Linked DNA regions of Homo sapiens: region 1 is linked to region 2. The links come from fine-mapping of genetic effects on gene expression. A gene starts in region 2. The other region holds a variant in brackets. All regions are shown on one strand. Distances are between the middles of the regions.

Region 1 (15,870 bases), 53 kb after region 2:
ATATTAAAGAGAATTTGCTGGTTAGTTGAGGAGTCTTAAGGCAAAGTTCAGGTATAAACCAGTGTTATGAGTGAACAGAAACCACACAAGTAAACTGAGTCATTTATCTGTCCCACAGATGTATATTAGGCAGCTACTATGTGTCAGACACCACACTAGGCACTGGGTGTACTGGCAAACAGGAAAGAGAAGTCCCTGCCTTTGTCAAGATCGCAAGTCAAGTCTAATACCGTTCAACAGAAATATGAGGCAAGTTGCATATAAAATTTTAAATTTTCTGGTAGCCACGTTAATAGTAAATTAATTCTAACAATACTTTTTTTTTTTTTTTTTGAGGCAGAGTCTCGCTCTGTCACGGAGGCTGGAATGCAGTGGTGCAGAGGCTCACTGCAACCTCCGCCTCCCGGGTTCAAGCAAATCTCGCACCTCAGCCTCCTGAGTAGCTAGGACCACAGGCATGCGTCACCATGCCCCGCTAATTTTTGTATTTTTAGTAGAGATGGGGTTTTGCCATGTTTGCCAGGCTGGCCTCGAACTCCTGGCCTCAAGTGATACGCCTGCCTCAGCCTCCCAAAGTACTGGGATTACAGGCATGAGCCACCGTGCTCAGCTAATACATTTTACTTAACCTAATATATCAAAAACATTTTCATTTTAACATGTAATCACTATTTGTAAGTTGTTAATGAAATATTTTGCATTTTTTGTTTGTTTTTGTTTCTTTTTTTGGTCCTTCTCAGTCTAATCCATATTTTGCATTTGATATTAAGCCTTCAAAATATAGTGTTTATTTTGTACTCACAGCACATCTCAATTTGGATGCTAAATTTTCATCAGAAATACTTCATCTGTATTTAAACTTAATAAAATTTATATGTGAAAAAGTTGATTCACATACTCAAATTGTTCCAATATACTTGAGTTCCAATAATTGAAGTAATTATCAGGTTTTTTAAATTCAAATTAATTAAAATCAAATAAAATACAAAATTCGGTTCCTCAGCCACACTAACAACGTAACACAAGTGCTTAACAGACATAATGTTGCTAGTGGCTACCTAAAGCACAGCTCCAGTGAGTAATAGATACCAAAAAGTAAAGATGATTAAAGCTAATATTATATGTACTCATAACAATGCACTGTTATGAAGGAAATAACCACAATTATGTCGTAGAAGCAGGTTAAAGATAACAAATGAGTTAAGTAAAAAAGCTACTTCATTTTTATGAAGTTTAATAATAGGGAGTGGTGGGGAATTGGAAAGTATATGTAGCCTAGAGGTATTTGAATTCAATTTAATAATACTGTCATTTGGATGGGGTAGGGTACGGTCTTCTTCAGACAAGAAGGCCTCACCAAGGATATAACATTTGACTTGGGTCTAAATGAAAGGAGAGGACCGACCATGAAAAAAGCTGGAAAAAAAAAAGTTTGCAGGCATTTGAGGCCAGTGCAGCTGAAGAGTAGTTAGTGATGGGCAATGTGTAGAACAGGGTTTAAAAAGAGAGCAGAGACCAGATTGTGCAGTCTTGTAGCCCATGGTAAAAGAATTTGCATTTTGTTCCAAGAATGAAAGCCCAGGTGTGGTGGCTCACACCTGTAATCCCAGCACTTTGGGAGGCCGTAGCGGATGGATCACCTGAGGTCGGGCGTTTGAGACCAGCCTGACCAACATGGAGAAACCCTGTCTCTACTAAAAATACAAAATTAGCCAGGCATGGCGGCACATGTCTATAATCCCAGCTACTTGGGAGGCTGAGGCAGGAGAATTGCTTGAACTCGGTAGGCAGAGGTTGCTGTGAGCCAAGATGGCGCCATTGCACTCCAGCCTGGGCAACAAGAGCGAAACTCCATCTCAAAAAAAAAAAAAAGAAAGAAAGAAAGGAGGAGCCATATATGGCCAAGGAGAGAGTAGGTATTTCTAGAGCTAAGGTAGTTCCAGATTAGGGGTGGCCTTATAATAACCCTCCCTTTTCTTAAGGTGTTAGCAATAAATCTCATAAACAAAATTTGAATTTATATTTTGAAGAGTTAATATAAAATGCAAAATATGGATTAGTCTGAGGTCCAAAAAAAGGAAAAAAGAAACAAACAAAAAAAATGCAAAATATTTCACGAACAACTTAAAAACAAAAGAGCCTCATAAAAAAGAAAGGAAGGGAAGAGTACCTACAACTACTAAGCACTAACCCTGGCCTCAACTACTCTGAGGCCCTTTACATTCATCTCATTTACTTCTCACAACACCTTTATGACGCTGGAGATGATAACCTCACTTTCTCATTTTAGCAATTAAGACTCACAGACATGAGGCAACCTGTCCAAGGTTTCACAGATAATAAACAGCAAAGGATCTGAACACAGGTCAGATTCCAAAATTCATGCCTTAATACCAGGCCTCCTGAGCTTTCTGAACACACACCAATACCTGGGTCAGTCTTGCTAAAAAAGTACTTTTTTTTTTGAGACGGAGTCTTACTTTGTCACCCAGGCTGGAGTGAAGTGGCACAATCTCCACTCACTGCAACATCTGCCTCCCAGGTTCAAGTGATTCTCCGGCCTCAGCCTCATGAGTAGCTGGAATTACGGGCGTCTGCCACCATGCCCGGCTAATTTTTTGTATTTTTAGTAGAGACAGGGTTTCACTATGTTGGCCAGGCTGGTCTTGAATTCCTGATCTCGTGATCCACCCGCCTTGGCCTCCCAAAGTGCTCGGATTACAAGCGTGAGCCACTGCACCCAGCCCACCACCATTTTTTTTTCTTTTTAGACTTGCTCTGTCACCCAGGCTGGAGTGCAGTGGTGTGATCTCAGCTCACTGCAACCTCTGCCTCCCAGGTTCAAGCAGTTCTCCCGCCTCAGCCTCCAGAGTAGCTTCGGACTACAGGCACACACCACCATGCCCGGCTAATTTTTTGTATTTTAGTAGAGACAGGGTTTCACATGTCGCCCAGGTTGGTCTCCAACTCCTGAGCTCAGGCAATCCTCCCGCCTTAGCCTCCCAAAGTGCTAAGATTACAGGCGTGAGCCACCACACCCAGCCTCATTTTTTTGTTTTTTTTTAAGAGTCTCACTCTGTCACCAATTCTGGAGTACAGTGGTGCGATCTCGGCTCACTGCAACCTCTGTCTCCTGGGCTCAAGCGATTCTCATGCCTCAGCCTCCCGAGTAGCTGAGACTACAGGCATGAGTCACCACACCTTTTAGTAGAGACGGGGTTTCACCATGTTGGCCAGACTGGTCTCGAACTCCTGACTTCAAATGATCCACCCACCTTGGCCTCCCAAAGTGCTGGGATTACAAGTGTGAGCCACGGCACCTGGCCAAAAAGTACATTTTAGATAGTTAATATGTTTGATTCAATTTGTTTGTCTCTAAAGTTTTTTTTTTCTTCAGCTTCTCAAATACAGATTGTATTGGGGAAACAGAGGCAGCATAATAATGCATCCTCTGTATTTCATAAGATTATAGGATGAAAGACAAAAACTGTGTTCTTTCTTCCATCTGTTCAGGCCATCGTAATAAACACGATAGTCATTCAATAGCACATGAATACGTTGTGTGCACAAGATTCTGTCCCTGCCAACCTCCCTCCCAATAAGAGTAATCTGATTAACTAGATGCATATTCTCTTAATAAATAAAAGTTGCACTTTGCTCCCCAGCTCTTCAAAAAGAAGAAAGCCAAGTTTTGAATTAAAGGAGCTTTCTGCGTATCTGAATTTTTCTTAATTTTAAAAAAAAAAGGATTCGAAGGATTTCTAGGATCATTGAAAAAAAAAGAGATGTGAGGGAATTTGAGCACATTAAATAATTTTGGGCAAAGCAAAGACCCTGGAACATAATCAAGGCCAAATCTGATAGTGTATACAGGGATAAGGGGCCATGATAATCTTTAAAACAGCAGGACCCTCCATCTGTGGACACTGAAGAGGGTGTACAACTGGAAGTCTTGATAAGAGATAAGAAGGAATCTGGTTTTTCATTGAATAATGACAAAACTTTAGATCTTGGAGCTCTACTACTTCAAACCTTTCACTTCACAGATAAAATAGTTGAGGTCCAGAGAGAAGTAATCTGCCTTAAGTCGCACTGCAAGTTAGTATCAAAAGTGGGATTAATACTCATGTGTCCAAACTTCCAGTGTTTTTTCCATTATTTCACATTTCCTCCTTATTTGACTTATTTTGGCCATCCATATATAAACACTGGGCTTGGGAATACTGTGTTTAATGAGGACTAAACTTGGAGTCCTTGCCCTGCTAGAAGATGTTTAAACTCTCAGGTAACAAAGATCTTATGGGAAGCAGCTTAAAATAAGCGGACCTTGAAACTTCCCGAAGAACTTTTCTTTGTGTCAAATGGGAAGAATAACTCTGTACTGCCTACCTCACAAGGCTGTCCTAAGGTGCAAATGAAATAATGAACACTAAAGTGTTGTGTAAACCTTCCCACGAAGGAAGATTATGGGCACTCAAGTTGCAGTTAGAGGAACCTTTGGTCCCAGAAGGTCATTCGAATCAGGCCACCGACTCACAATGACAGTCGGCTTTACTCGTCTGTAAAATGGAGACAAGAGCAAATGCCACCCCCACCATAGGTGGTAGTGAGGTCTGAGCCGAAAGACGCAGAGTACAACGTGAACGAAGATGGTTATTCGCTGCCCCGGCCGCGCCTCCTCACCTTCTGCACCTGCTCTGCGAGCGCCACGAGGTCTAAGGGGTCCCCGGCCCGGTGGGTGTGGTAGGGGCTCACCAGGGCCAGGCCGCCGGGGGTCGGGGTGAGCTCCACCAGGGCTCCTGCGACACACACCCAGGAACACAAGCCGTGAGCTCCCGCCGTCGGCCTCCCGCGGAGCCCCGAGACCGGCTGCCTCGCGGGAGCTGACTTCCCCCTGCTGACTCCCGCCCCGCATACCTCCCTGGCCTGCAGCTGGCGGCGCTCCTTGCCTTTCAAGGACCCCCTCGGTCCGCCCCGGCGCGGCGGCGTCCTCCATGACAGCGCCTTATCCTCCCCACTCCCTGGGCTGTGCGAGTAGGAAGAGCCTGCGCATAAAGGCGCGTGGGCGGAGCTTCCGTCTTTCTTGTCTACTGGGCGTCAGTTCGACTGAGCAAGGCCTGAGCTCGGAGGCGGGGCTCCGGCTGACGCGCCGGGATTCGCTGAGGGCCGGTGGGGGGATCCGGGCTGACTGAAAGGAAAAGAGGCGGTGCAAGCCTCGTGGGCATGCGCCGCCCGGCTTGGAAGGTGGGGCTTCGCCCGGGGGCGGGCCTTCGCCGGGGGTAGGACTCCGGCCTTGGTGGCGGGTGGCTGGCGGTTCCGTTAGGTCTGAGGGAGCGATGGCGGTACGCGCGTTGAAGCTGCTGACCACACTGCTGGCTGTCGTGGCCGCTGCCTCCCAAGCCGAGGTCGAGTCCGAGGCAGGATGGGGCATGGTGACGCCTGATCTGCTCTTCGCCGAGGGGACCGCAGCCTACGCGCGCGGGGACTGGCCCGGGGTGGTCCTGAGCATGGAACGGGCGCTGCGCTCCCGGGCAGCCCTCCGCGCCCTTCGCCTGCGCTGCCGCACCCAGTGTGCCGCCGACTTCCCGTGGGAGCTGGACCCCGACTGGTCCCCCAGCCCGGCCCAGGCCTCGGGCGCCGCCGCCCTGCGCGACCTGAGCTTCTTCGGGGGCCTTCTGCGTCGCGCTGCCTGCCTGCGCCGCTGCCTCGGGCCGCCGGCCGCCCACTCGCTCAGCGAAGAGATGGAGCTGGAGTTCCGCAAGCGGAGCCCCTACAACTACCTGCAGGTCGCCTACTTCAAGGTGCAGACCTGCCTGGAACCAGGCGGCCGGGGTCCTTCTGGGGAGAGGAGTGTTGCAGGGGACCTGAGGAGCTTGGGGGATCGGGGAAGTGTCCGCAGGGAGGGGAAAGTGGCCTCCTGGCTGGGGAGCTCTCCTCGGAGCCGGGGAGAGCTGCTCCCTGGCAGGAGACCTTCCTCGCCCAGTTCGCATGGGCAGATGCTAACCCCAAAGGTCCAGCCTGGGGTTAGGGCACAGGCCAAGCAAAACTCATGGCCATTTTGTTCCCTGGGAAATCTCCTGGAAGGAATTAAAGCGGCAGTTTGGGTCTCCCATTCTGATGTCATTGTAAGTGTCCGAGTGAGAAGCTAGTAGCGGTCTACAATATCTCCCTTCCGGTTGGTTTTCCAGTGGTGCTTTTCCTGCTGTTTGATTCAGCAGCTCTCTTTCAGGATGTGAGGTTGCCACGTCGCCAGCAGGGGCTGCCTGGCCCTTTCTGTGTGTGTGTGGGGGCGGGGGGGGGACCCTCTGGCTAGTCTGCCAGGTTTACAAAGAAAATGAGTATTTTTCGGAATGCCAGAGTGCCATGTGTCCAAGTGTACACTTGGGCTTGGAGCGTTCCAGGCTTGTTTGGTGGTGGTGATGGTGACGATGATGATGATGATGATAGCCAGCACATACTTCCAGGCACTATTTTAAGCAGTTTGCATTTATTAACGCATTTGCCCTAATCTTCATAATATCTTGTCAGGTAGATGCTGTTATTAGTCCCACTGTATTGGGGGTGGGGGGAGAAAGAGTTGTGCATTATATCTGGTATATCTGTTGTTTAAAAGACCTTCGATTCGATCTAAAGAGACACTTAGAGACTCTTGGGGACCTCAGATTTCCACCCCTCCACAGCATTCTGCCTACACAGTTCCCCTCATTTTTCCTAGTTACTCGGAAGAGCGCTGGACTTGAAATCAAAATAATTGCGTTATGTCTTTGGTTATGTCGCTTCATCATAGCACTTTCTAAAACTATTTGACAAACATGTATTGCATACCTACTGCATTCCAGTTCTTGTACAAGTAATTAAATGCTCGACTAACGTCTTTGCTTTGTCTTGCTTTGCTGTTAAGAGTTACTGTAGTAAGGGCTACTGCAAGGGCATATACTTAGGGCTGCGGGAGCACAAAGGAGGGAGACTCTAGCTTTATCTCAGAGAAATTAGACTTCAAAGAAGAGGTAATATTGAAGCCTGCCCTAAGTATTGCCAGGGGGAGAGGAAAGAAGGCTCCTCCAGATAGAGAGAAAAGTAGAACCAAAGCATGATGTATTCAGGAAAAAAAATGAACTCTTGTGATTGCAATGTCGAGATGTGTGTGGGGAGTAGTAGGAGAGGCGGCTAGAAAAGTCAGTGAGGCCAGATTTGGAAGAGAATTCTGCGGACTGCAGGGAGCCATCCTCAGATTTGGGTTTTAAAACGCTTATTCTGGAAGCCATGGTGAATGAGCCTTGGAAGAAGGAGAAAGTGGTGGCACTTGATTAGGAGGCAGACATTTGTCCACAAGAGAGGAGGTTAAGTACCTCAGTGCTTAGAGAGTAAAGAAGGCTGGGGGTGGAGAGAGGAGTGAGGACATGAGGGAGAACAGAGAAAGGCAGGAGCAGCGCTGAAAGACACAAGAGCTAGAGTAATTCCATGAAAGGGACAGACCTGAAAAAATTTCTAATTTTACAGTTAAAGAAACTGAGGTACAGAGATGGGGAGTTATTTACCTTGGGTCACCTAACCAGGGCTGACTCCTTTAGTGTGCCTTTACTAGTACCAATGATAAGAAAATAAGTTTTCTTAGCATATTAATCATACCACCTAAAATTTATTGAGCACTTAATCTGTGCCCAGCACCATGTATTACAGGCTGCATATTATCTCGTTGAACTCTCAACAATGCTAGGAGATAGCTAGAGAATGCTATCTCCAGATGATAGATTAGGGAAACTGAG[T/A]TTAGAAAGTAAACTTTAAGTATCTTGTCTACTGCCCAGCCAGTCAGTGAGTCATTAAGCCCAGATGTGATGCTGGCCTGTCTCTTTTCTTTCTTTCTTTTTTTTTTTTTTTTTTTTTGAGATGGAGTCTCGCTGTTGCCAGGCTGGAGTGCAGTGGCGACCTTGGCTTACTGCAACCTCTGACTTCTGGTTTTCTGGTTCAAGTGACTCCCCTACCTCAGCCTCCCGAGTAGCTGGGATTACAGGCACGTGCCATCACATCCGGCTAATTTTTGTATTTTTAGTAGAGATGGGGTTTCTCCATATTGGCCAGGATGGTCTGGATCTCCTGACCTTGTGATCCACCTGCCTCGGCCTCCCAAAGTGCGGGATTACAGGCGTGAGCCACCGCACCCAGCCCTCTTTTCTTTTGAGACGGAGTTTCGCTCTTGTTGCCCAAGCTAGAGTGCAATGGTGCGATCTCGGCTCACTGCAACCTCCGCCTCCTGGGTTCAAGCGATTCTCCTGCCTCAGCCTCCTGAGTAGCTGGGATTACAGGCACATGCCACCACGCCCAGCTATTGTTGGTCTCAAACTCCTGACCTCATGATCCGCTGGTCTCAAACTCCTGACCTCATGATCCGCCCGCCTCAGCCTCCCAAAGTGCTGGGATTATAGGCGTGAACCCCCGTGCCTGGCCACGGCTGGTCTCTTTGATACCAGTGTCCACATAGTTAATTACTAGATCATCAGTGATTTATTTGGTTGGATTCTATATATGAAACCTGTGTTACTTTGACATGCTGGAGTCCATTGCTGTGGGCATTGTGGTCTGTAGCCTATTTCTCCCCCCTTGGATTTCTTTTTTTTTTTTTTTTTTTTTTTTTTTTGAGACAAGAGTCTCGCTCTGTCACCCAGGCTGGAGTATGGTGCTGTGATCTCGGCTCGCTGTAACCTCCGCCTCCCGGGTTCAAGCGATTCTCCTGCTTCAGCCTCCCAAGAAGCTGGGATTACGGGTGTGCGCCACAACGCCCAGCTAATTTTTGTATTTTTAGTAGAGACGGGGTTTCACCATGTTGGCCAGGCTGGTCTCAAACTCCTGACCTCAAGAGATCTGCCCCCTTCGGCCTCCCAAAGTGCTGGGATTACAGGCATGAGCTACCGCCCCCGACCACCCCCTCAGATTTCTTAGAGCTATTTGTTTGAACCTCATGAGCCCTGAGCTTTGAGTCAGAAAATACTATGTCTGGACTTAGTAAAGGACCTTAGAATTTTTAGCCATCCACCTTTTCCCTAAATGTCTCAAAAATTCTTCATTTTATTTTATGCAAAAAAAAATTTTTTTCTAGGAAAATTCTTAGGCATAGTCTGTTAGCTGCTCTTTTTTCTCTACCCCTAAATCCTTGAAGCCACAGAATTTCTTCAGCTCAGGCATTACATTTGATTCATGAAATATATATATGTATTTTTTTTTTTTTGAGTCAGGGTCCTGCTGTGTCACCCAAGCTGGAGTGCTGTGGCACCATCTTGGCTCACTGCAACCTCTGCTTCCCAGGCCCAAGCGTCCTCCCACCTCAGCCTGCAGAGTAGCTGGGACTACAGGCATATAGTACCATGTAATTTTTGTATTTTTCGTAAAGACAGGGTTTCACCATGTTGCCCAGACTGGTCTTGAACTCCTGAGCTCAAGTGATCCACCTGCCTCGGCCTCTAAAAATGCTGGGATTACAGACCTGAGCCACCGCACCCAGCATGAAAACATATTATGTGGGCAGTCAGTCTTTCACAGCACTCCCCATACAATATGACCTTTGTTTTAAAATGGAACATTGCTACTTCCTGTAATCTGGGGAACCCCTAAATCTGACTTGGGAAAGAGCTACAAATCTGCCCAGGGCACTATGCTCCTAATCTGTCGTGGGTAGTTCCTGCAATAGGTGTGCTTCCTGGGGCTGGCAGGGGCTGGGCACGCTGAGTGGAGGGCTCAGGGAGGCAGGGATTTCCTGTTTATGTGGACTGCTCATGTGGACACAAACGTTCAGAGATTGGATGTGAGCATTATCCACCTTCTCATGCTTCATTCTTAGATCAACAAGTTGGAGAAAGCTGTTGCTGCAGCACACACCTTCTTCGTGGGCAATCCTGAGCACATGGAAATGCAGCAGAACCTAGACTATTACCAAACCATGTCTGGAGTGAAGGAGGCCGACTTCAAGGATCTTGAGACTCAACCCCATATGGTGAAAAAAACTTTATCCCCTTCTTTCTTTCTTTCTTTTTAAATTTATTTTAGAGACAGAGTCTTGCTCTGTCACCCAGGCTGGAGTGCAGTGGCTTGATCATAGCTCACTGTAACCTCAAATTCCCGGACTCAAGAGACCCTCTAGTCTCGGCCTCCTGAGTAGTTGGGACTACAGGCATGCATTCTTTTGTTTTTTTTTAAATGACATTACTAAGGTTGTTTTCTAATTACATTACAGAAGTAATGAATGTTCATTGTATAACATTGTAGAAATGTAGGTAAGTATAAAATAAAAAGTAATCATTTGTAATACCGCCACCTTAAGAAAACCAGTTTATATTTTGCCCTATTTTTTAAGTCTTCCGTATATAATTTTTTCATCTAATTTGGTGTTATATCATGTATGCATTTTTTATCATCTTTTTTATTTTTTTTGAGGCAGGGTCTCACTTTGTTGTCCAGGCTGCAGTGCAATGGTGTGATCATAGCTCACTGCAGCCTTGACCTCCTGGGCTCAAGTGATCCTCCCGCCTCAGCCCCACAAATAGCTGGGACTAGAGGCATGCACCACCATACCCAGCTATTGTTTTTATTTTTTGTAGAGACGGGGTCTCACTGTGTTGCCCAGGCTGATTTCAAACTCCTGGCCTCAAGCGATCCTACTGCCTTGGGCTCCCAAAGTGCTGGGATTGCAGGTGTGAGCCACCATGGCCAGCCCCATCATCATTTTTTAACTAACATTATTATCATGAGTCTTTTCTCATGTCTTCAGTTTTATTTGAAAACATAATTGTTTATGGCTGCATGATAGTCCATCTTATGCAGAGACTATATTAATTCACTAGTCACATTTTTTTGGTCATGTATGTTTTTGATTTTCACTACAATAAATGTTACAGTATCCTTCAATGTTCTCATTCTATTTGTTTAGCAGGAAAAGTTCCAAAGGAGGGACTGTCTGTGATGATATAGCATTTTATAGAGAGTTTATGGTTCCTTACATTTTAATTATAAAATAGGAATGTTAGAAACAATATAAGAATGACTTATAGGCCAGGCGCAGTGGCTAACACCTGTAATCCCAGCACTTTGGGAGGCCGAGGTGGGTGGATCACTTAAGGTCAGGAGTTTGAGACCAGCCTGGCCAATATGGTGAAACCCCATCTCTACTAAAAATACAAAAATTAGCCAGGCATGGTGGCATGCACCCGTAATCCCAGCTACTCGACATGGAGGCAGGAGAATAGCTTGAACCTGGAAGGTGGAGGTTGCAGTGAGCCAAGATTGTGCCACTGCACTCCAGCCTGGGTGACAGAGCAACAGTCAAAAAAAAAAAAAAAAAAAGAATGACTTTTAAAAGTAAGTTGTGGCCAGGTGCAGTGGGTCACACCTGTCATCCCAGCACTTTGGAAGGCCAAGGCGGGCGGATCACAAGGTCAGGAGATTGAGACCGTCCTGCCTAACATGGTGAATCCCTGTCTCTACTAAAAATACAAAAATTAGCTGAGCGTGGTGGTGTGTGCCTGTATTCCCAGCTACTCAGGAGCCTGAGGCAGAAGAATCGCTTGAACCCAGGAGGCGGAGGTTGCAGTGAGCCGAGATTGTGCCACTGCACTCCAGCCTGGGTGACAGAGCGAGACTCCATCACACACACAAAAAAAAGTAAGTTGTGTTGGCCGGGCGTGGTGGCTCATGCCTGTAATCCCAGAATTTTGGGAGGCCGAGGTGAGTGGATCACTTGAGGCCAGAAGTTCAAGACCAGCCTGGCCAACATGGTGAAATCCTGTCTCTACTAAAAATACAAAAATTAACCAGGTGTGGTGGTGTATGTCTGTAATCCCAGCTTCTCAGGAGGCTGAGGCGCTAGAATCACTTGAACCCAGGAGGTGGAGGTTACAGTGAGCTGAGATCATGCCACTGCCCTCCAGCCTGGGCTGTCTGTCTCAAAAAAAAACTCTGTCTCAAAACAAAACAAAACAAAAAGTAAGTTGTGTTTATTTGAAAACTGTTAGCCCTACAAAAAAGTGCAAGAACCTAGGCCAGGCACGGTGGCTCATGCCTGTAATCCCAGCACTTCGGGAGGCCGAGGCGGGCAGATCACCTGAGGTCAGCAGTTCAAGACCAGCCAGACCAACATGACAAAACCCCATCTCTACTAAAAACACAAAATTAGCCAGGCGTGGTGGCGCATACCTGTAATCCCAGCTACTCTGGAGGCTGAGGCAGGAGAATTGCTTGAACCCTGGAGGCGGATGTTGCAGTGAGCCAAGATCGCACTATTGCACTCTAGCCTGGGCAACAAGAGTGAAACTCCGACTCAAAAAAAAAAAAAAAAAAAAGTGCAAGAATCTGTCACTAATGGGGGGGGAAGAAAAGTACAAGAAAATCATAATGAACTCCTAGATATCTTTCATCTAGATTAAGAGTTAAATGTTTTTTGGCCAGGCACAGTGGCTCACACCTGTAATCCCAGCACTTTAGGAGGCCGAGTTGGGAGGATTGCTTGAGGTTAGGAGTTGGAGACCAGCCTGGCCAACATGGTGAAACCCCGTCTTTACTAAAATACAAAAATTAGCTGGGCACAATGTAATCCCAGCTACTAGGGAGGCTGAGGCAAGAGAATCACTTGAACCCAGGAGGTGGAGGTTGCAGTGAGCTGAGATTGTGCCACTGCAGTCCAGCCTGGGCAACAGAGTGAGACTCTGTCTCAAAAAAAGAAAAAAAGAGCTAAATGTTTTTAAATTTCCAGAGCTAAATATTTTGTAAAGACCATTTACAAAAGGCCTTCATTTTATAGTGGTACCCAGGTCACCCCTTTCCATCCATAACCTGAGGAACAGGAAATTAGGACCCCTGTGAAGGTGGCTGAGGGCAAGGAGAGAGGGTTCCTCCTCTGTGGCCTGCATTTGAGTGCTCCTTCTTCCCAGTAGCAAGAATTTCGACTGGGAGTGCGACTCTACTCAGAGGAACAGCCACAGGAAGCTGTGCCCCACCTAGAGGCGGCGCTGCAAGAATACTTTGTGGCCTATGAGGAGTGCCGTGCCCTCTGCGAAGGGCCCTATGACTACGATGGCTACAACTACCTTGAGTACAACGCTGACCTCTTCCAGGCCATCACAGGTGCGTGCAGTTCAGAGCCAGACCTTCAGCCAGGCCTCCTGGGACTCTAAGGTCACCATCTGATAATATAAATGGGGACTCTTCACCCTCATTCCTCAATTTATTAAATCTGAGAAGCTGATGAAAAATTGCTTCCATTTGAATTTGTTCATCTTAACCAGAATTTGAGTTCTAAAGAGTGACCTCATAGTTATTCCTTCTGTTTGATTCCTTTCAGATCATTACATCCAGGTCCTCAACTGTAAGCAGAACTGTGTCACGGAGCTTGCTTCCCACCCAAGTCGAGAGAAGCCCTTTGAAGACTTCCTCCCATCGCATTATAATTATCTGCAGTTTGCCTACTATAACAGTAAGGCCTACTTTCCTTCCTCTTTCTCTGCTGGCTAACTAAGAAGCTAAAGGCAAGGTGGGCAGGGATTACAGCCACTTACTTCCTCAAGGTGTTTGGCTTATTTCAGTAGCTATGGGAGGCACCATGCCAAGTGATCCCTGGGTAGTTTGTTATAAACAACTGGCCTAGGAAGCCAATACCAGCAACCCAAAAAGCTGGGGGAGGGAGACTTAGGACCTCATCTCTTGTCCCTTCTATAACTTGTAATCTATTTTTGCTTTTGAATTAAAGTTAATAGCAAAATAAGGGTATGCCACAGTTTAAACTAGCTCAGAGGACATTTGCTAGCCCTCTCCCTGGTATAGCACTGATGCTTTTGTGGGGCTGCCAATTAATACCCAGAAAACCAACTCTTTGCAGAGTCCCTACTGTGTGCTAAGCATTACAAACATATTGATGAGTGTACAATATTTACAGTTGAGTTGAGATGACTAACAAATATCAACAAGAACTATTTTGCCAAAGAGACAATCTGCTATTGTAATCTTCCTTGTCTTCTGAAAATCTATAGAAAAAAGAAGGTAGGAAGACAGGGAAATTGATCTAATGATTGAGTGTATTGAGGCAAAATATTAAGGAGTATTGGAATTATTTGTGAATCTTAAAAGATGTGGGCATGCAGAGAATTCTGATTCTTTTCTGTTTCATTGTTAGGCAGCCCTGAGGACATTGACCACCTCACCTTAAAATTAATCACACATTCTATGTGTATTACTTAACTCCTGCCCCTGAAATCAGGCCATCATGTTAAGTAGCAGGCACCAGCTTGTCATGCTGCCATTGCCTCAAGCTTTGTGGAGACTGAACACTAAGTGGTCCCTGGTGCTAGGATTTTATCCTTTCCTTTTGACTCTTTCCTCTCAGCCATTCTTCTTTCCACTTTGCAGTTGGGAATTATACACAGGCTGTTGAATGTGCCAAGACCTATCTTCTCTTCTTCCCCAATGACGAGGTGATGAACCAAAATTTGGCCTATTATGCAGCTATGCTTGGAGAAGAACACACCAGATCCATCGGCCCCCGTGAGGTGAGAGACTTCCTTCTGTTATGACAGCTGCCAGCTGAACTCAGACCTGAGGGCGGAAGAGTGGGGTAGCAGAGGGGAGTAGGCGCTGTGCGTGCAGGGCAGGGGCCAGATGTCAGTGTTGGGGCCAGATGTGAGTTCAGTCACTCGGCTTGTTATTCAGAGGAGAAGGGAGCACAGGGAGGGAGTGTGGGGAGTACACAGGAGCCTCAATTAGCGTTATCTGGGCCCAGAAGTCTATTCTCTGAGTCCCGCAGAACTGCGCGGTGAGCATATTCTTTCCCCTCTTGGCACCCCTAACTTGGACACTCGATATTATTTGGCCAAGAGCTATCATTTTTCACTTAATACTGGTTGTTTTTTTTCTGCTCACCTGTTTTCTGTCTCCATTTTCTTTCCCATCTCTTCTTCTTCCTGCCATTGTTTGTTCTCTCCCATCTTTCAGCATTTTCCCTGTCTCTCTCCAAAACCAGGAGAAATATCTGTATAACACAAAGACTGCTGCGCTGAAAGGAGACACCCAGGCTCTTCTTCCGAGCTCTGGAGTCTGAGAGCCTCCAGTAGAAACAGCCTCTTGCTGCCCCTCCTGTGTGGGTTGTCATTGTAGTTGTCCTCTTTAGCCACTAGATGGTGACCATCTGGCTTTAAGATGGCACTTCCGGTCTCTTTTGTCTTGTTTGGTTAATACCTTTTCCCTGCCTTCCTTATGGCCATTAAGGGGAGTCTGAGGGGAGTGAGGGGAAATAAACCCACGTGGCCAATCTAGCATTTTTAACTAGAAGTCCCCTTTTGGAAAGAAGGCAACTAACATTTGTTGAGCCGCTGTCCAGGCGAAGCTCTGTGCGGGGTGGGCTGTATCCATCATCTCATTTAATCATCACAGCCACCCTGCAAGGTTGGCACTCTTCTTCCCACTTTAGGGATGAGGACTGTTAGCATCTGAGAGATGAAGTAACTTGTGCAGTGGCTTGTGGCCAGTCAGTGGTGACCGGAATCTGTTCCCTGCTTGGACCCAGTGCAGGCACAGCTCCAGACACATGGCTGACACTCAGTAAATCAGCATCGAATGAATAAAGATGGAAGTGGGGTTTGCTTCATAGCAGCCTTATAGGGTCATTGGAGAGGGTTAAATGAGATAACATAGCATTTGGTGACAGAAGCCAGTAATGTAAACTCCTGAAGAGAAAACGTCTCTCTTCCTCTTAGGTAAATATAGTAGATGACATAGGATTCATTGACTCCTTTAATTCCTCCTTGAACTGCCTCATGTTTTATTTCAACTGATGTCTCCTTTTTCTCTTCCTTCCTCCTCCTGCTGCTTGGAGATTAGCAGGGCACCTAGGGAAAG
Region 2 (15,870 bases):
TCCCTTCTCGCTGTCCCTGTAAACCAGCAAGCCACACCCTGTCTGTATGCCCCTGATAAAAGAACAGAGCAAAGAGGAGGCTCCCAAAAATGAGGGAACCACTGAGTATGACTGACCGGGTAGGAGGCACGTTTGCCCCTCCACTCCCTTTTCCTCCAATGCTGCCAATAGTAATTCCCTCTGATGCGTTTTGATCCTATCACATTCTTTCTGAAAACCTTCCCCCTTTACTTTTCAAATCAGAGTAAATTGGAAGATTGGTTTCAAAGACATCCACCAATTAACCACCTTCTTTAACTCACTATCTTTATCTCCAGCTACACCCTGACATGTGCCTTCTGATAAGCAAGCTTGCTGTTTTCCAACATGTGATAAACGCTTCCCGCCTGTCTTGCTTTCATAATATCCTTAGCTGTATGTTCATAATCTCCATAATTATATCATTAACAATACATTACACATTTTTATGTCCTTTGAACTTTATAAAGATGGAGCCCATTGTACATAATTCCCAATTATTCCCTTTTTTTATTCAACATTAGCTTCTGAGTCTAGCAGACATCTGTGGTGGCCCACACCATGTCCCCTCAGCCCACCCAATTTTGGTGTAGCTGAGACTTGCAGGCAAGCTGCTAGCATGTCACCTCATAGGCCATGGCATTTTTCTGCTTGCCTGTCTTGGGGCTTTCTACAAAGCCTTGGAAGGCTGTGCAGCCCAGAAGTTCACCAAAGCTAACACCTCGGAGACATAAACAACAGTGAGAGGAGTCAAGACAAAATGCTCCAGGCTTGCACCTTCAGCTCTGAGCTGTATTCGACATGATTCCTCTGAGTGTTCCCAATGGGAGTGAGCACGGTGGTTCATAGTGGTAAGTAGCTCCGTACTGCACCTTTTATTGACTTTTCTTCCTTTTTTGCTCATTCCCATTTCTGCTTCCTGGGATTACCTCCTAAATACACTCTTGAACTGAAGTACTTGTCTCACACCTCACACTCTGTTCTGGGGGTGTACAAATTAAGACACTGAAATTAATCCAGGTTGTTTCACAGAGCACTAGGATATTCATTCACTGCTATATAGTAGACCATTATATAAATCTACCAACAGTTTCTCTCGTCCCTTAATGATAGAAATGTGGGTTGTTTCTGGGCTTTAGCTTTTATAAATAATACTGTCCTGAACATTCTTTTTTTTTTTTTGAGACAGAGTCTCGCTCCGTCGCCCAGGCTGGAGTGCAGTGGTACGATCTCGGCTCACTGCAAGCTCCGCCTCCTGGGCTCATGCCATTCTCCTGCCTCAGCCTCCGGAGTAGCTGGGACTACAGACGCCCGCCACCACGCCCAGCTATTTTTTTTTTTGTATTTTTAGTAGAGACGGGGTTTCACCGTGTTAGCCAGGATGGTCTTGATCTCCTGACCTTGTGATCCGCCCGCCTCGGCCTCCCAAAGTGCTGGGATTACAGGCGTGAGCCACCGCGCCCGGCCTCGTGCCCTGAACATTCTTGATAGGTATTTCCTGCTCACATGTGCAAGAATTTCTCTAGAGCACCAGTTCTTAATGTGTGGTCCACAAACACTTGAAGTCCCTGAGGCCCTATCATCCAGGTTAAAACTACATTCATCATAATAAAGACGTTATTTGCCTTTTTCACGGTATTGACATTTTCAAGGACACTGCAAAAGCAATAGTGGGTAAAACAGCTAGCACAAATCAGGAAGTGGCACCAAACTGTAGTAGAAGTTACAAATTTTATTAAATTTCAACTCTTAGATACACATCTTTTTAATAGTTTGTGTGACAAAATGGGAAGGATGCATAAACAGTTACGCTGCATATCAAAGTATGATGACTTTATCGAGGAAAAAACCTTAAGTGATTGAGTTGTGAGCTGAAGTAATCGCTTGACTCATGGAGCACCATTCTTACCTGAAAGTACAGCTGAAAGACAAAGTATAATTATTCAGACTTGGGTATTTGGCAGGCATTTTCTCCAAAATGAATAAAGTGCACCTGTCACTTCAGGAAAAGCAACTGACAGTGTTTGTTGTCAATGAGAACATTCAATCTTTTGAGCAAAAATTAGAATTTTGGAAAATTTTTATCTGCTGCTTGATACCCTCACAATAGCAAAAGACTTTTCTGATGAGATTGGCATTGATATTAATAAATGTGATTTTTTGATGTTGTATAATGAAATGTGTCAACATTTAGAAGATCTGTAAAACTCAGTGACTCAGCAATTTCCAAATGACCAATGGGTGTGTTGACAAAACCCTGCATGGGTAAAACATTCATTTAAAATGCAAGAAAAAACTGTGAGTGTTGCTGTAATAGAGTATAAAAAGGTCATTGCTATGGTTTCAGATTTCATGTCACAACTAAGCTTTAAAAAACTACCACTTGCTGAGTTTTGGTGTCTTATCAAAGAATATCCACGATTATCTGAAAAAGCTACTGAAATGCTCCTTTTCCAATTGCATACACTTCAACCACAAAACATACTGCAGCAGATTGAAAGATATAGCTGGCTTGAGAATACAGCTGTCTTCTATTAAGCCAGACATCTAAAATATTTATAGCCATTAAAAAGAATAAAATCCCATCATTCAAAGTGACATGGATGGAACTAGAAAACATTACGTTATATGAAATAAGTCAGGCACAGAAAGTTAAACACCACATGTTCTCACTCATAGTTAGATGTTAAAAAAAAAGAAAAAGTTAATCTCATAGAAGTGAAAAGCAGAACAGAGGTTACTAGAGGCTGGAGAGGGAAGGGGAGGATAGGGAGAGATTTGTTCAATAACACAAAATTACAGCTAGGTAGGAGGAACAACTTCTACTGTTTTATAGCACTGTAGGATGACCATAGTTAACAATAATATATTATGTAGTTTCAAATAAAGAAGAAAGGATACTGAATGTCCCCAAAACACAGAAATGATAAATGTTTGAGATGAATATGCCAATTACCCTGATCTGATCACTACACATTGTATGTATCAAAATATTACTCTGTACCCCATAAATATGTACCATATGTGTCAATTAAAAATTAATTAGGGCTGGGTGCAGTGGCTCACGCCTGTAATCCCAGCACTTTGGGAGGCTGAGCCAGGCGGGTCACCTGAGTTCAGGAGTTCAAGACCATCCTGGCCAACATTGCGAAATCCTGTCTCTACTAAAAATACAAAAATTACCCAGGCGTGGTGGCACACGCTTATAATCCCAGCTACTCAGGAGGCTGAGGCACAAGAATTGCTTGAAGCTGGGAGGTGGAGGTTGCAGTGAGCTGAGATCACACCACCACACTCCAGCCTGGGCGAGAGAGTGAGACTCCATCTTAAAAAAAAAAAAATTAATTTTTTAAAAAGGATTTATATAAATATAAAGCAGTGCTACTCAGTAATATTTTTGTTTCAAAAAAGTTGCTTTTCATAAATATATGTTTTGTTGTTATATAATTTATTATTTTTATTTTTAAAAGTAGTAATTATATTTAATTTTTCTTAGTTTTCTTTTTTTTTTTTTTTAGAGCTAGGGTCTAGCTCTGTTGCCCAGGCTGGAGTGCAAAGGCACAATCATAGCTCACTGCAGCCTTGAACTCCTAGGCTCAAGTGATCCTCTTGCCTCAGTCTCCCTAGTAGCTAGGACTACAGGTGCATGCCACCAAGCCCAGCTATTTTTAAAAATTTTTTTGTAGAGATGGGGTCTTACTACGTTGCCCAGGCTGGTCTCAAACTCCTGGCCTAAAGTGATCCTCGCACCTTGGCCTCCCAAAATGCTGGATTACAGGCATGAACCACCACACCCAGTCAGTTTTAATTTTTAATATGGAAAATTTCAAAAAATATAACTCATATAAACTGAAGCTCCCTGAGGTCCTCAATAATTTTTAAATGTAAAGCGTTTCTCAGAATATATACCTAGAAGTAGTATTGCCAGGTTATAGATGATACTAAATTGTTTTCCAAAGTAATTGTACCAATTTATAACTTGTCATAATTAATATTTTTACTGCTTTCTCCAGAAGCATTTTATCAGATAGTCTAAATCACATCATAAAATGAGTTTCTTATCTGAAATGTTCTTTTTAGACTTCTAACTCTATGAGTGAGAAAAACAGATACAGACATAGATAAAGATATCACTCATAATCGTAATCTCAGAATCCAGTAATAATCACTGTAATTTTTTTGGTCTATATGCTTCCTGACTTAAAAAGAGGGAGCTCTAGATTTCCAGTTAAATAAACATGTCTCATTGAACACAAATGCTTATCTCTGTTACCTCCCAAAATGATCTAAAATGACAATCTTGGAGTGCAAAAGGAAAAGCCTATAAGGACAAAGAGAACAGGACAGTAAGTAACTGTGCAATAGAGATGTCAATACATTTCTTTAATGAAGGAAAGCAGAGGGCTCACTAGTAATAGAGCTAGGAAAAACTGAACTCTAACCCAGGTGCCTGCAGAGGGAGGCAGGATTGGGGGAAACATCAGATAAAGGGTTCCTGACATCAACCCTTGACATCAGCAAGAAGAAAGCTGATTCTCAACTGAGAACCTTCCAGGCTTGGGATGGGAGGGACCAGGGCCTGGCTCTACCTCCCGGGGTTGTTGTAAGGATTAAATTAGCTAAAACATGCAAAATACTTAAAATAGGGGCTGATACTCAATGGTAGCTGTTATTGTCTGAGGATAAGCTCCAACTTGAAAGCCAGAGACCAAAATAAACAACAGAGACAATCTAGGAAGCAGAAGAAAACAGCAGAAAATTACAACTGGAATCCTCAGAAATATGAAATAAGAGAAGATCCTGAATCCACAACATAAGAGCAAGAGGCTACCAAAAAGGAAAGTCGGGGATCAAACAAAAACTCTTGGAAATTAACATTTTTGTAGCAGAAATGAAAAAATTCAATAGAAGAACCAGGGGATACAGCTCAGGAAAATCTCTTGTAAATTAGAATAAACAAAACCAGGAAATGGAACATGAAGAAAAATTTAAAAACAGGGAAACTGGCTGGGTGCAGCAGCTCATGCCTGTAATCTGAGTACTTTGGGAGGCTGAGGCAGGAGGATCACTTGAAGCCAGGAGTTCAAGACTAGCCTGGCCAACATAGGGAGACCCTGTCTCTATTTGTTAAAAAAAAAAAAAAAAAAAGAGAAACTGATCACAGAGAACGTTTCCCAGAATTGAAGACTTTGTTTCCCAATTGAAAGGGGCCACCGAGTGCTTAGCATAATGAATGAAAAATACTTAAAGGACAGTTTGTTATGAACGTTCAGAACATCAAGGATAAAGGAGAAAAATATCCTAAACAAATTAACAAATTAACAAACAAAATATATGGGAAGTAACACAAGTCAGAATAAATCAGTCTCCTCAAGAGTAGCCACATGAGAAGCTAGATGACAATGAATCAATGCCGTTAAACTTCTGAGGGAAAATAATTTCCAATGTGGAAATCTGTCACTCAAGGATGAAAGAAAATAAAGCCATTTTTAGACAAGCAAGGACTCAAAAATTTAGCTTCCATGAACCCCTTCTGGGGAGTTAGTGGAGAACATACTCCTCCAAAATGAGAGAATAAACCAAGAATGGAAAAACATAAGATCCAGAGAGCAGGGGATTTGGCACAGGAGAAACAAGAAGAGAATCCCCAGAATGTGGTTAGGTCCCTAATCCTAGGACAAGAGCTGTGAAGCAAGGCTAAGCAGAGGAGTTTGGAGCAAAGAGAGGATGAGTCTAAGGAGGGATGCTGCCAAGAAAAAAAAAAAAGACACTGGTAAATGACCTGGTTCACATCTGTAGTACCAGCCACTGAGGGGCTGAAGCGGGAGGATCACTTGAGCCCACCTCTGAAAATAAAAAATAAACAAGGGATGCATAGATCATTAAGCAAATAAAAATAGATAATTTTTTGACTCTAGAAAAAATATTATTCAATAAAGTGAATATAATCTTAGTGTAGTATATACCTCAACTGTAAAAATATTCTAGTTATATTACTATAAACTCTTGCTAGTCATTCAACAAACCAGGAAATTCTGCAGCCTGGCCAAGAGTCCACTGGTAGACACAAAAGAGACAGACAAAGCATAAACTCATGGAAAGAATAGAGAGGGGACTTTGACAGTGTTCAGCCTCAACATTCACTCCCTCCTGGCTCCAACCTTCACCTTCCCAATAAAGAATGTAGAATCCCAAACTGGTATCTCCAGTTCCGTTCTTTTCTGAAATCTTCTAATTGCTCACTGGACAATTCTTCTTGCCTATTGCCACTTGAAGCGTAATCTAGCTCTTTCTCTCTCTCGGTCCCTCTCTTGCGCGCGCGCACACACACACACACACACACACACACACACACACACGCTCCTAACTTATCCTCTTCCTCACCGTTTCCCAAACCAACTCATCACACCTTCTCCACTTTCAACAGTGGCTCAGTGGCACCACTACTTTTCCAGTCTTCCATGTGGCTTTTCCACTCCTCCATTCCCTATAGCTGGTTTGTTTTTAGCTGGCTTCTAAAGGTCCTGCCGTGTCTTCAGCTGTAATCTAGTTCATAGCTTATATGAACGTTATAAACCATACCATGTGACACAAATGTAAAATACCAGTACTACATCAAGATTTCTGAAATAGACTCTGACTTGGTTACTTTTATTAATAATAATCGAATCAGCATTTGTATAGGGTTTTTAAAAAGACATTTAATGTACTTTCCTCTGATTGCTAAAGTATAAACGTTTACTGTAGAAATTTTGGAAAAGCTGGGCGCAATTGCTCACATCTGTAATCCCAGCACTCTGGGAGACTGAGGCAGGAGGATCACTTGAGCCCAGGATTTCCAGATCACCCTGGGAAACACAGTGAGACTCCATCTCTACAAAAAAATTTTAAAAAATTAGCCAGGCATGATGGTGTGTGCCTGTAGTCCCAGATACTTTGGAGGCTGAGGTGGGAGGATTGCTTGAGCCCAGGTTACAGTGAGTTATGATCACACCACTGCACTCCAGCCTGGGTGACAGAGCAAGACCCCATCTATTTTTTAAAAATTAAATAAATAAAAAATAAACATTGTGCAGTAGATCTCTAGAACTTTTTCACCTTACAAACCTAAAATTCTATACCCTTTAAACAATTCCTCTTTTCCCTCTCTCCTAGCCACTGGCAGTCACCATTCTACTTTCTGTTTCTTAGACTTTGATTGCTTTAGATACTTCATATGAATGGAAACATGCAGTATTTGTCTTTTTGGGGCATTGTGCTCACTTTTAAGGCTTTTGATACCTAGTACTAAACTGACCTCCAGAAAGGCTGTTAACGATTTACAGTTTGACTGGAAGCGTGTGTCCATCTGGGCTGAGTTCATTGCTTGCTTAGCATCTATCAGTTGTTTCAATTCTTGCCAGTTTGATAGAGGAACAAATAGTGGACCCAAACAGGGTTTTACTTTGGATAAGGCCATTGTCCTATGAATCCTGGCTGAAATATTTGCTCCAGCACTTAGAAGCTGTGTGACCCGGGACAACTCACTTAACTTTTCAATGCTTCTGTTCCCTTATGTGTAAATGGGGATAATAATATACACGTATACATTATACACACTTATTATGAGGAATTAGTTAATAAATGTGAAGCTGTAAGAACAGTGCCTGGAATATAGTAAGCCCAAATGTAAGGTAGCTATTATCATTTTTGTCAATCCTTGCTAATGTAATACCTGGAAAATTACAGCCAGCTATTTTAATTTACATCTCCTCGGTAATCAGTTGAACGTGAATGTTCTCTGTATTTATACTGGCTATTGGTACTTCTGTCAAGATTTCCTTTTTCAAAGCACTGTGGCAAACGGGATCTCACTTGATCCTCCCAATAAACTCATGAATGAAGAAGGTGGCAATCATCAATCCCCACTTTTCGAATTAAGAAATTGAGCCTCGGAATTCGAATTCTGAGCAATTCCAATTCCAGGATTCGGATCTCACCCTCTAAAACCTAGTAGCTGTTGCAGAAAATATAACGGGAAAAAGCTTTGGTTAGCCGTAACCACCACCCACCCCGGTGTGGCTCCGCCCCTGCCCCGCCCCGGCACCGGCTTGCCCCGCCCCGCCCTCTACGCGGGTTTCCAGCCATCCTCTCTGCGCACGCGCGGCCGCTCCTGCGGGCGGAAGCCTCCTGGCGCTCGGCCCTGCGCCCCTCCCCCCGGCGCGCGGCCCCGCCCAGGACGAGGGGCGGTGGGCAGGCAGCGCTGGGTCCAGTGGTCGGGGGAAGGCGAGGATTACCCTCCCGGAGGCGTTGTCTGCGACTCGGCGGAGGCTCCAACTTCCAGTGGCCCGGTCGGGAAAGGTACAGACTCCCAAGCCTCTTGGTCGGCGGCTCCAGCGACCGCCATTTTCCTCCAGGAGAGGGAAGAGGGCAGGAGGCGGGGGCCGTCCCCTGGGGCCGGGCGGGCCGGGGCGGGGTCGGGGGGCCGGGCGGTGGGGGGCGGGCCCGGCTGGCTATGGGGCCCGGCCCCCTGGCCCCAGGAGCGGCTGCTGCGGCGGAGTTAGGCCGGCCGCAGTGGGAAAACCCTGGGCGCCCTCTGGGTCTCAGCGTCCCATTAGGACGGTTCCGCGCTGGGTGCCGCACGCCGCACAGTGGGCAACGCTTTCACAGGGGTCTTTGCATTTCACCCGCACACAGCAGCTCCTGGAGGGAGGCCAGGAAAACACTTAACCCATTTTGCAGACAGAAAACTAAGGCTCAAAGTGGGGAGGAGACTTGCCCAGGGACACCCAGCGAGGTTGTGGCCTTGGGACTCGGTTCCTACTCCCCCACATCCAGCGCCCTTGCCACCAGACCACTCTGCCTCACCTGGCAAAGGATGGGGCGGAGCTAAAGGATTAGAGGAGTAACTGGCAGGGTATTTTTTGTTTTGTTTTGTTTTGAAGATCTGCCTCTTTCTGTACCACCCAGATCAGAGCCTCCTAAGAAATATCCAGAAGTCAAGCCATGGATCCACCTGCACGTAAAGAAAAAACCAAAGTTAAAGAATCTGTCAGCAGAGTTGAGAAGGCCAAACAGAAATCAGCCCAGCAGGAGCTGAAGCAGAGACAAAGAGCAGAGGTGAGATTAAGGCGGAGGCTCTGTATGCCTGTAGTCTGCTGGAGATGATGCTGGAATAGAGAAACAGCAGAAAGGAGAACTGACAGCGAGCCATACTTGCCTCCAGGCAGGATGGGTGTTCTCCCAGGTTTAGAGGGGACAACACTGAGGTTCAGAATGGTGAGGTGGCAGCCCAGAATCACATGCCAAGTTAGTGTCAGAACCCCAGTCTGGTGCGGAGCTTTTGTGGTAAGAGACCCAAGGGAAGGAAGAAAGGAAAAAAAATGATATGTAAGGGGAAAGAAGGGGTCAGAATGAGAGAGAGCACGCAAGTGTCAGACACCCCCAGTACAGATGTTCTGGATTTGGTGCGGAAAGCAGCTACTCATGCCAGGTAGAGGCCCAAGCTTTAAACTCACCAGTGTGTTCCTTTGTTCTCTCAACGATTACAATCAACTTGAGAATAAAAAGCTTTAAACTTTACCCTGCCAATATTGAGCCACATACAGACATAAGTATTTTATTTTAGTATTTAATGTCAGGGAAAATCTTGCTGGTCTCTTTTTCCCTCTTTGTTTTGTTTATCTGTCTGCTTTGTTCATTTCCTGTCTTACATCCTTTTACTTCTCCATGGACAACTACTTTTTTTTATACTTTTACATTCAAATATATTAATAGATATCCTTGAACAATATACAGTAGTATTTTAAATTTTTACATTAATAAAATTCCTGCATTTTATTTTGCATTTTGCTTACATTGTTTTTTAGAACTATTCATGCCAATATAAGAATTTAGTTTATTCTCATTAATTTTTATAATAGTCTATTTTATGCATCCATTTTACTTAGTATATTTATTCATTCTTACAGAGATGCACATTTAAATTATTTATAGTATTTTTTGCTATTACAAACATTGCTGTAGTGAAAAGCTTTTAGGTGTCTCCTTTGGCACCTGCCTTAGAATTTCTGTAGGTTATTTAACTAGAAAAATTACTGGGTACATTCTCAATTTTACTAGACATTGCCACATTGCTTTTTTTTTTTGAGATGGAGTCTCTTTTTATTTTTTATTTTTTATTATTATACTTTAAGTTCTAGGGTACCTGTGCACAACATGCAGGTTTGTTACATATGTATACATGTGCCATGTTGGTGTGCTGCACCCATTAACTCGTCATTTACATTAGGTATATCTCCTAATGCTTTCCCTCCCCCCTCCCCCCACCCCACAACAGGCCCTGGTGTGTGATGTTCCCCTTCCTGTGTCCAAGTGTTCTCATTGTTCAGTTCCCACCTATGAGTGAGAACATGCGGTGTTTGGTTTTTTGTTCTTACGATAGTTTGCTGAGAATGATGGTTTCCAGCTTCATCCATGTCCCTACAAAGGACATGAACTCATCCCTTTTTATGGCTGCATAGTATTCCATGGTGTATATGTGCCACATTTTCTTAATCCAGTCTATCATTGATGGACACTTGGGTTGGTTCCAAGTCTTTGCTATTGTGAATAGTGCCATAATAAACATACGTGTGCATGTGTCTTTATAGCAGCATGGTTTATAATCCTTTGGGTATATACCCAGTAATGGGATGGCTGGGTCAAATGGTATTTCTAGTTCTAGATCCTTGAGGAATCACCACATTGTCTTCCATAATGGTTGAACTAGTTTACAGTCCCACCAACAGTGTAAAAGTGTTCCTATTTCTCCACATCCTCTCCAGCACCTGTTGTTTCCTGACTTTTTAATGATCGCCATTCTAACTGGTGTGAGATGGTATCTCATTGTGGTTTTGATTTGCATTTCTCTGATGGTGAGTCTCTTTTTTTTTTGAGACGGAGTCTTGCTCTGTCACCCAGGCTGGAGTGCAGTGGCGTGATCTCTGCTCACTGCAACCTCTGCCTCCCGGGTGCAAGCAATTCTCCTGCCTCGGCCTCCAGAGTAGCTGGGATTACAGGCGTGCACCACTGCCTTGGCCTCCCAAAGTGCTGGGATTATAGGTGTGAGCCACTGCACCCGGCCGATATTGTCAACTTTTAATTTTTGTTAACCTGATTCATTCATTAAATATTGGCCAGGCACAGTGGCTCACACCTGTAATCCCAGCACTTTGGGAGTCCGAGGCAGGCGGATCATGAGATCAAGAGATTGAGACCATCCTGGCCAACATGGTGAAACCCTGTCTCTACTAAAAAAAAAATTAGCTGGGCGTGGTGGTGCTCCCTGTAGTCCCAGCTACTCGGGAGGCTGAGGCAGGAGAATTGCTTGAACCCAGGAGACGGAGGTTGCCGAGATTGTGCCACTGCACTCTAGCCTGGGCGACAGAGCTAGACTCTGTCTCAAAAACAAAAAAAAAAGAAAAAGAACTGCTAGTATGTGCCAGGCACTGTTCGAGGAATTTGAGTCACATGATGACAAAGCAGAAAAGAATCCCTGCCTTCATGGATCTTGCATTCCAGCAAGGGGAGGCAGTAAACATAATAAGTAAACTTACTAGTGCATTTGAAGTTAATCTGTAAACTGAAATCTACCTTTGGGTTAAGGCAGACCCCCTGAGAGCTGTGGTCCTTTACCTTCCCATTCCCACCTGGATCCGGGTCCTCAGATGATATGACTGCATTGTGCTTTGGTGAACAATATGAGGGTTGCTATAAGAAACAGCCCTGAAGCAGGAGAACAGAAGCTACAGATAAGAAAACCATTGATCAGAGAAATGGTGATATAGCCAAGGGAGCTCTCACTGGAGGAACAGAGCTATCTATACTTCCGTGTACAACAAATGCTCTGGGAAATGGAGAACCAGTTGCCAGCCCATATGTGGTTACCTCACACCAATCAAAAGTGACTGTGGAGAGCACCCCCAATTTGGAAAACCAAATGAAAATGGAGTATCTCTGTTCAGAATGAAAATTTTGAAGAAATTATAAATTTACCCATTGGATCGAAACCATCCAGATTAGATGTCACTAACAGTAAGAGCCCAGAAGTTCCTTTGAATCCAGTTTTGGCCTTTGATGATGAAGGAACGCTTGGGCCCCTGGCTCAGGTAGATGGTGTTCAAACACAACAGACTGCAGAAGTTAAATGCGTATTTTTTCTGAAGAACCAACGTCAAAATTTAACGAGAATTTCTATAATTAATGGAATTCCTTTCATGCTATAAAAGAGCATCCCCTCTTCCAGTTTTCTAAAGATTTCTTGACCATCATTTTGAAAAGATTTATTTAAACTAGCTAAAGACAACAGACAGGATAGCTTTCCTAATAATTTTCATCAGTAGAAAAAAAATACTCCTCATTCTTCAGTACTTTCAAATGGCTTTTTCCAGTGTGCTCCTTCTTAGCAAATTAGTATTTTTCTGCGTTATTTAAAAGACAAGAGGATTTGGCTATAAAATGATTGACTAGGATTGACTAGGCATGATTTTTTTTCACATAGTTTGGTCTTAAAGCTTAACAGCTTAAAATTGGCAAAAAAAACTTGTGCCTTTTACCATGTAATACTTGAAAAGTAAGTACCTCTTTGCTACAAGTAGAATGAATAGGGAAAAGTTTAAGCCTGTTTTTTTAAAAATATTATTTTAAAGAGCTCTATTTGTAGAGGCAAATTATAGGCAGATTACCAGTTTCTTATAAATACAAACTTGTACATGGACATTCTGCAAACCCAGCTGTCATATTCTTGCAACTACTTTTGCAAAAGCATACTAAAAGGTTTTAAAATGTGAAAAAACATTATTTTTTCAGAGCAAGAAAATAATTTACTGTTGTCTTCAATAATGTGTAAAGTTTTTCCAGATAAACTAATCAAATAAATTAGAACAATGTGACAACATTGCAAATTTGTCATTAGATGCATTCCTTCTAACGTTACCAGGGGAGGATGTTACTGATGATTCAAGGCTGTTTCTGAAGTCTGTGTGTTGCTACTGTCCCCAGTGATGGTGGGACTTACCTCTGTCCTACTTGATCACAAATTATGTTAGGGGGAAATAAAGATTTAATATTTCATTAAATAAAAAAGAAATTTGGTTTTGCTCATTTAAGAGCAACAAGAAAATGGTGGTGTGTTGACTGTGTTTGGCCGCAGGGCACAGACCTTTATGGAAGTCCTCGCTCTGCATGGCATCCACCAGCTTTTCACCTTTCATTCTTATTCTTCACTTTTGCTGCTGAGCCTAGCTGTACAAATTTGCACTTTCATTTGCTAATGTAAATTCAATTTATTTTACCATTTTAGAGACTACTAATGATTAAATGTAAGAGAGGACACATGTTTTTATGTGGAGTGTTAAAAAAGATAAATTTATACCACTGTAATGTGCTGGATTTATTAAAAGAGATTGGTTAAACTGCTCGGTTGAATGAGAGACTTCCTCTATTGTACTCTTTTTTTTTTTTTTAAATCCAAGGATATTGTCTTTAGTAACAGCTTGTAACTTGTTAAAACATTAATTTGGGGTTTTTCCCTATTCTTAATTGTCTATGTACACATAGTAATTATGTTAAAATCCGTTTTTAAAAAAAACAGCCCTATGAAACTGTCCTCTGTGCATATTGTAAGGATAGATGTTGAGGACATTGTTCATGCCCTTATTGACACCCTTCTGTAAAGTTCTATAGGTTAAATTTATTTGTCTGACTTCAAATCTCAGCTCCTCCATAAATCCCAGTTCTTCCATGTGACGTTGGACAAGATACTTAACCTCTCTGAACCCCCAGTTCATCAGTTCCTCCTTGGTAAAATGAGGATAACATCTACCTCAGAAGACCATTAAAAGGAATAGAAATACCACGTGTAAAGCCCATAGCGCAGTACTTGGCAGAGGAAGCATTTGATAACTAGCAGTGATTATGATCAGGAATAATCTTGTGTTTCCAAGCAGGCAGCCTGCTCTTATTGTGTGGACCCTAAATTGAACAACTGCTGAGTTCCTGTTGACCTGCTGAAATGCAACGTTGCTGCACTCAAGCAGCAGCTGGCCCCGTGCAGCTCTTGAGATGTGCCAGGACCGAGCCAAGCCTACACATGCATAGCCACATGTAGTCCTCACACCAGGGCTCCAAAGCAGGAGTTATTGTGACTCCCATTTAACCTTGGTTAATCCGATATGTAAAATATATGGCCTTGTGAGGTAGGCAGTATTATCCTCACTTCAAAGGGATGTGAGTAGAGTCCTGTAGTTAAAGAGGGGCAGGCCTGTGGTCTAAACATCTTCTGACTTTTGTCTGTTGTTTTTTGCCTTGCCCCCTACAGCTGCCTTGCTGTTTTTTTTTCTGTTTGGTTGGTTGGTGTTTTTGTTTTGTTTTGAGACGGAGTCTCGCTCTGTCACCCAGGCTGGAGTGCAGTGGCACGATCTCGACTCAGTGCAACCTCCACCTCCCAGGTTCAAGCAATTCTCCTGTATCAGCCTCCTGAGTAGCTGGGATTACAGGCACCCGCCACCATGCCTGGCTAATTTTGTATTTTTAGTAGAGATGGACTTTCACCATGTTGGTCAGGCTGGTCTCGAACTCCTGACCTCAAGTGATCCGCACACCTCGGCCTCCCAAAGTGCTGGGATTACATATGTGAGCCGCCGCGCCTATCCTGTTTGTTTTTAATCTTTATTGCCTGGAATGTAATGCAACAAGACCCTTTGTGGGGAGGAAGAGACAGTTTCTATTCAATTCTGCAGACGCCAGATTCCAGAAAGTTAGATGTGAAGGAGAGATGTGGGAGGTGAATGGGAACGGAAGGCACATTGGCAGTGGAAGCACCGTTTGACACTGCTAGGGTCCGTTTCCTTCTTGACTGAGAGTCATTCTTTGGCCTGGACACCCTGACCCATTGTGAGTCTCCTCTTTCTCCTACCATCTTGCCTCCTTGATCTGGAGGTCTCTGAGAAGCTATTTAATTTGCATCTCAGTCCCTAGTACAGTAATGTGCAGATTAAAAATGCTCAGTAAATACTTAGTGAATGAAGCAAGCAGAGGTTTTCAAATATATATGTATATATGTGGGCCCGGGCACAGTGGCTCACACCTGTAATCCCAGCACTTTGGGAGGCCAAGGTGGGCAGATCACGAGGTCAGGAGATCAAGACCATCCTGGCCAACATGGTGAAATCCCGTCTCTACTAAAATACAAAAAATTAGCCAGGCACGGTGGTGCACGCCTGTAGTCCCAGCTACTCAGGAGGCTGAGGCAAGGGAATTGCTTGAACCAGGAGGCGGAGGTTGCAGTGAGCTGAGATCGGGTCACTGCACTCCAGCCTGGTGACAGAGCAAGACTCTGCTCACAAAAAAAATATATGTGTGTGTGTGTGTGTGTGTGTGTGTGTATGTATGTATGTGTGTGTGTGTGTGTGTGTTAAAAGTATATTTATATAATGTGTGTATGTGGCTTAAGAATAAAACACCCAACTATAGAACGTGACCAGTAACTGGGAAGCTTTGTGTACTCCTTTCCTGGTCATGTACCTCACCCTTCCCACCAGCAGTACCCTCTTTGCTGTATTTTATGCTAATCATTCTTGCTGTTCTACGTTAATTTACTGTCTGTGTACCTCTAAATATTTTGTTGTGTAACAATATATTGTTTTGAATGTTTCTGACCTTTTATATATGTTACCGTGACTGGCTGTCTTCACTCAGCCTTTTTTTAACCATTCAAGTTTATTTATTTTTATTATGGTAAAATATACATAAAATTTACTAGTTTCATCAGCCGCATTCTGTGTTTCAAGAATCATTTGCGGTAGTGTTAGTAACTATTTTCATCACTGTGTA

Direction of the effects. Positions count from the first base shown, and alleles are read on the strand shown. Sizes are in standard deviations (SD) of each study's normalised expression.
For the expression in left ventricle of the gene that starts at base 8,151 in region 2, T is the low allele of the variant in region 1 and A is the other (moderate effect, 0.54 SD a copy in GTEx).

What was found. PIP is the estimated chance that this variant, and not a neighbour inherited with it, causes the effect.
Region 1: its variant is fine-mapped to the expression of SVBP in left ventricle (GTEx, PIP above 0.99).

What each region holds. Positions count from the first base shown.
Region 1 is chr1:42,756,438-42,772,307 of GRCh38, reverse strand. P3H1 (prolyl 3-hydroxylase 1) reads left to right here and starts at 5,280. Exons shown (of 15, transcript NM_022356.4): 1 at 5,280-5,801; 2 at 9,833-9,985; 3 at 12,918-13,107; 4 at 13,325-13,456; 5 at 14,386-14,525. The coding sequence starts at 5,337. C1orf50 (chromosome 1 open reading frame 50) reads right to left here and starts at 5,059. Exons shown (of 5, transcript NM_024097.4): 1 at 4,918-5,059; 2 at 4,684-4,799. The coding sequence starts at 4,996. RefSeq lists silencers at 4,772-4,911, 5,532-5,641 and an enhancer at 5,902-6,021. The variant T/A (reference allele first, on the strand shown) is at 7,767.
Region 2 is chr1:42,809,678-42,825,547 of GRCh38, reverse strand. SVBP (small vasohibin binding protein) reads left to right here and starts at 8,151. Exons shown (of 3, transcript NM_199342.4): 1 at 8,151-8,358; 2 at 8,968-9,117. The coding sequence starts at 9,004. It overlaps ERMAP (erythroblast membrane associated protein (Scianna blood group)), which reads right to left and starts at 8,426. Exons shown (of 12, transcript NM_001017922.2): 1 at 8,295-8,426. RefSeq lists silencers at 8,008-8,297, 8,448-8,647, 9,208-9,277.